Regions from separate parts of the Homo sapiens genome. Here region 2 is linked to region 1. The links come from fine-mapping of genetic effects on gene expression. Tissue or cell type: whole blood. Region 1 holds a variant in brackets; the other region holds the start of a gene. All regions are shown on one strand. Distances are between the middles of the regions.

Region 1 (2,846 bases):
CATGTTGCCTAGGCTGATCTCAAATCCCTGGGCTCAAGCAATCCACCCACCTCAGCCTTCCAAAGTGCTGGGATTACAGATGTGAGCCACCACCTACAGCCTGGCCAAGAACCCTTTTCTCTCCCACATTCCCCTGGGAGCAGAGGATAGGCCTGATGATTGTTTTAAACAGTAGAAAGGGTTCAGCTAAGAACTACAGTCCACTCTCAGCCCTGTCATGTACTATAGGACAAGTCTTCATTCACAACAAATGGATAGCAACACCAATCTCGTAACACTGGGAAAACTGCATACAATATTTAGAAGGAACACTAATACAGCAGAATCTGCACACAACGGAGTCAAAGATCTGAGGCCAAATCCTACTACACTTTACGACTTTGAGTTGGTCACTTTTCTGAACCTTAGCTTCTCCATCAGTGTAAAACTGATGTAAAATAATATAAAGCTATATGAAAGCTGATGTGATGTACTTGTGAAATAGTATGTGCAAAAGGACTTTGTAAAATGTAAAGCACTATGCTGGTTATTGTGATATCTGAGATATTTTTAAAGTTGCAATTCAATTCAACAAGCATTCATTTAGAGTCATGTGCAAGGCACTGTGCTAAGAGATGGGAAAATACTACATAAATACAAAATTCTGCTGAAAACTAACTTATTGGCAGAGTTCCAAATAATGAAACGGATACATTTAACAAATCAGAGTATTGCTACACCTGAGATTTTTCACTTCAACCACCTGGAAGGAGAAAACCTAATAACAGCATGAATTTTATCATACTGTTACCATTCATAGCAGCTTAATAAGTATTTCACTTCAACGTGGTCAGCCAAGTTTTATAATTTGGCAATAGTGTAAAGAAGCGTGAAGAGAAAAGGAAGAGGAGGAAGAGCTTCAGTCTTTGTATCTCCCAGGGTTATAATATAAAACTGAACATCAAATAAGCCACCCCACCCTTATACTTATGATTTATTATTTCTTAAAGAGCGTATAATACATTGTGGGAGAAGGGTAGAAGATTCATTTTTCCTGCTCACTCAACTACACACTCAAAAGTGAAAGCCCTCTTCCTTGAAAAGTGACTGTCTTAGAAAAGTTTAACAATACATTTCTTAAACCAGGAAAAAATTACACCATCTATTCTTTTAACAGCAGGTAGTTTAGAGTTCTTAAAATAACTTTATAAATATATAATATAGTAACATAGATAACCAAAGTGGAAAAATTTCAAGCCAGGGTACCAGTGTATAAAATGAAACTTTTCAAGCCATCTTAACAACAGTTAAGTGAGCAAACCACCAAC[T/G]CTGAACTCTCAAGCTGTGTTTTAAAATACAAAGCAGCCCGCAGCAAGTTCTCTCTTGTCCAGGCATTCTGTATGTAAGGCCAGGAGGCTTCTGCTTCTTTCCTGGGTTTTGCTTGCTAGGCACAGCTGGAAGGGCAGAGGGCCACAGCTGAGCTGAACTCGCTGTCAAATTTGAACTTCCTAGAAAAATCACTGCAGAGGAAACCACATCAACCTACTGAAGATTTCAGATCTTCAGAAATGTCACGGAAAGTCCTAAAAGAAAAAAAGACGGAATGATTAGTTGATTACCATAAAACAGTATCCTATTTTTACAATCTTTTGGAGCCCTAATGAGATTATATAGTCACTATTTTTTCTTAAGATTTTCATTGAGTATTGTTTCAAAGTCTGCTAGTTGTTGCTCATTCTCATTAACAAGAACTCCATCTTTTTGCTGGATCTATCCAAAGGACTGTTTCCCCAGACTCCCCTGAAACTACACATGACCACGTGACTACGCTTTGGTTAATGAGATTTAAGTAGAAGTGTTGTGCAACTTCTGGGCAGTTCCTTAAAAGAGAAGAGCAATCTTCTTCAGCTCTTCCACCTTGTTACTGGCTGGAAGTGGATATGATGATTGATGTTAAAGAGGAAAAACCACTAAGAGACCAAAGATTAAATGCTAAGTGGATACATTTTATTACAAAATAGAAATCGTAATCCAACAGAGAGTCCAAGCTCTAAGGGATGTGGTTCAGTGCAGGAAAAATGGGTTAGGTCTTTTCATCAAGTGACCTTGTACTTGAACTGTTTCTGACCCACATTAAACAAGCTAAGCGAACAATGTTATTGGCGGGTAATATCTGGGCTGGATGAAGGTGGCTGAGCACCGTGCCTGACTGCTGCATACATGAAGTGTCTATCTCAGTACTGTAGTAGCTAGCTTGCTTTTGCTACATAATTTACATGTCTGAGCTGAGATAAATCACCTGGCTAAATTTACATCTGTGCTGGCAGCCAAATGGCCAGGTCAGAATTTATCAATGAACATGAGCTCAAGCACCCATATTAGACAAAAATGCCTCACACCAAGGCTGGCAGTACATCAGGATGGAGAGAGGCTGGGACCAGATGTTTATGCAACAGTGATACAGATATAAAGCACAGTCTATTACCATTCTTTTAGATAGAAGTTATATTGCTCCTTTACAATAAGTCCACATATTAGAAATACAGAAAAATATTTGACTTTACAGTTGGTTTTTTGTTTGTTTGTTTGTTTTGTTTTGTTTTGTTTTTTGAGACAAGGTCTCACTCTGTTGCCCAGGCTGGAGTATACTGGTGCTATCTCAGCTCACTGCAACCTCTGCCTCCCAGGCTCAAGCCATCCTCCCACCTCAGCCTCCTGAGTAGCTGGGACTACAGGGAACATGACACCACATCCGGCTAATTTTTATACTTTTGGGAGGCTAAGGTGGGAGGATCACCTGAGCCCAAGAGGTTGAGGCTGCAGTGAGCCTAGGTCATGCCACTCCAGGCCAGCCTGGGCAACAAAAT
Region 2 (2,672 bases), 100 kb after region 1:
GTAAGAAATCTAAGACACCCAAACCCCTCTTTGTCCCTAAGTAGCCCTAGCCTGGTAAGAGGTCACCTTTCCTATCTGCAGGATGGCAAGTTGGCCTAGAATCTCTAAGGTCCCTTCCAGCTCTGACATTCAGATGCGCAGAACTGAGGGTGGCCGAAGCACCCCCGCCCTCTCCAACCAGAAGTAAAACCAAGCCCCACTGCCATGCTCTGAGGCCTCTCTCTGCAAAGCGAAATAACGATTCTCAATCCAGGGCACTGTCCCCCTAAGAGGGCCTATTAGGATTGAAACAAGGCGAAAAGCAGGGAGGCTGTTTCAAATCACGCCCGCCCCCTTTTTGGAAGAATGTCCGCCAAATTCCTGAGGTGTGAGAAGGAAAGCGGAGACGGACGGTCACTGCAGCACAGGTGTGGCCCCTCGTCGCCCCTGCACCGGGAGGAACAGCTGCAGGATTGCACCCCAGAGCGCCGGGACCACGGGCGGGGGACGGGGGCGGACTGCCGCTCACTCACCCACAGGCTGCTGAAGTAGTCCAGCCCGCGGCAGATGAGCGTGGCAGCGTGCACCAGCAGCACCTGCACGCCCAAGTAGCTGCCGAGGCAGTAGAGGCCGTACAGGAGCGGGCCGCCGGCGCCGAGCAGCAGGAGCAGGCGGCGGCGGCGCAGCGCCTGCTCGCCCAGGGCCTCGACGCCGTAGTCGACGAAGCAGAGCGGCAGGAGCAGCGCGGCCAGGACGATGGGCGTGTGCGCGCGGTGCAGGCGCTGCAGCCAGTGGCGGCCCAGGCGCGTCAGCGAGCTCTTGAAGGGGTGCAGAAAAGTGCCGCATAGCACGGCCCAGAGCAGCGGCCGCAGGAAGGCCTCCAGGATGAAGTAGACCAGCACCGCGGCGCCGCAGCACAGGCACACGAACAGCACGGCCCCGGTGTTGTAGAAGGCCTGCTTAATGGGCTTGTCGAAGCGCAGCGCCAGCGCCGCGGTCCGCGGGGTCTCCCCGCCACCGCCACTCGGCCCGACCGCGCGCGGGACCCGCGGCGCCGGCCCGGGAGAGCTCCGCAGGCTTGGCGCGTCCTTAGGGCCGCCGCCGTCGGCCATCGTTCCTCCGCCACAGCCGCCCCCGAGGGGCGGTAATGGGAGTCGGGCTAGAAACGCGGGCGGGAGGCAGGGCGGGAGGCGCGCGAGATTGTGGGAGTTGTAGTTCCCCGCTGGTTTACAGACCCACCAAGCGCTTGCAGGAAACTACAACTCCCGAAGGGGAAATGGGGAAAACGCCTCCGCCTCCTTGGTGTCCGCAAGGTCCTGCTAACAAGTTTGCAGGGTCTATATCTTCCTGGAGGGGGGGGGGGGGGGAAGCTCCTTTCACTCATTCGTTAATGTCAATTTCTCGCGAGGCGAGATCCCAAAAGGCGCCACATTCAGATATTAAAACCCAAGCTGCATACTAGAATACCGTGGGGGAGTACTTTTAAAGAACCAATGCCCCGATTCTGTTTTACTGATTTATTTAACAGATATTTTTAAAGTGTTTTCTTTGGTGTATCTGACAGGATTTTAAATAGAGATTACCATATAACAGGCCCTATTCTAAGTGGCTCACTCCTATTAACTCATTTAATCCTTAGAACAACCCTACAAAGAAGGTGTTATTATCCTCATTTTACCAACAGAAAAACTGAGACAGAGCCGTTAAGTACGCAGCCAGAGTCACACAGCTACCAAGTGGCACAGGCAAGATTCAAACTCAGGGATTCTGGCTCCAAAGGCTATACTTTTATCTACCATAGTATTTGGCCTGAGGAAAGAACTCTTGGCATTTTTCAAACGTTCCTCATAAGCCTGTAATTTGCAGCCGCTGTTGACAACTGTTTGTGCAGGTTTCGCTGTGGACGCAATCTAAACTCTTAAAAGAGTCGTAGATCAAAGTCTCAAACTGCCACTGTTTCTTTTTGAGACTTGATGTAATGTCAGTTAAGCCCCCAATCTCAAGTTTTCCTCTGTCACATGGCGATGATAATAATAATAGCTTTTGCTTTAGGGTTATTGTGTGGGGGAAGGGAAACTCTGGGGCGGTACAAGGTGCTTCTGTTCCCCTATTGGAAAAGTGCTGGGATCCAAGCCTGCTACCCATAAAATATCCCAATCAACATTTTGATTTAAAAAAAAAAAGAAAGCCTTGACTGAGTACTCAACATGTGATTGCTTCAAACCTTGCAAGTTGTCCCTTTCCTGTTTCAATAGTATTCCTATTAATTTCTACATAATTTTTGTTTCCCTTCTAAAGCAGACAAGACAGGTAACATAATCCACAGTTTGCAGATAAAGAAACTATTGCTTGATAGATTTGGAGACAAAGGGATTTAGTAAAGGAAGTAAAGGAAAAAGTAATTCCCTATCCATCTCGATTGTAAGTTTTAGGTCTCAGTATTTCAGATGGCCTTTGGAGTTTTATAACCAAAACGCAGGTTTAGTCGCTCACCACTTGCAGATTCCAATTAACAAGAGCAAGGTCTGGTATAAAGAAAGTGATGTATTCCAAAGCTAGCTTAGGGGAAGAAGTACAGGTTTCCTCCCTAAGGCTACTGCTTCAATTGTGGAGCAGAAAGCAGGCACTTTTAAAGCGAAGGAAGCAAGCAGTTGTCGGGGGAGGGGTCTGCATGCCTTATCTACTGGGTGGTC

The links. PIP is the estimated chance that this variant, and not a neighbour inherited with it, causes the effect.
Region 2: TMEM245 starts here. The variant in region 1 is fine-mapped to the expression of TMEM245 in whole blood (TOPMed, PIP above 0.99).

What each region holds. Positions count from the first base shown.
Region 1 is chr9:109,018,944-109,021,789 of GRCh38, forward strand. TMEM245 (transmembrane protein 245) reads right to left here. Exons shown (of 18, transcript NM_032012.4): 18 at 1-1,562. The coding sequence ends at 1,517. Among named protein-coding and RNA genes, the nearest start is that of CTNNAL1, 6.9 kb to the left of the region's middle. The variant T/G (reference allele first, on the strand shown) is at 1,308.
Region 2 is chr9:109,118,823-109,121,494 of GRCh38, forward strand. TMEM245 (transmembrane protein 245) reads right to left here and starts at 1,125. Exons shown (of 18, transcript NM_032012.4): 1 at 513-1,125. The coding sequence starts at 1,091. RefSeq lists silencers at 455-564, 915-1,084, 1,225-1,274 and an enhancer at 755-804.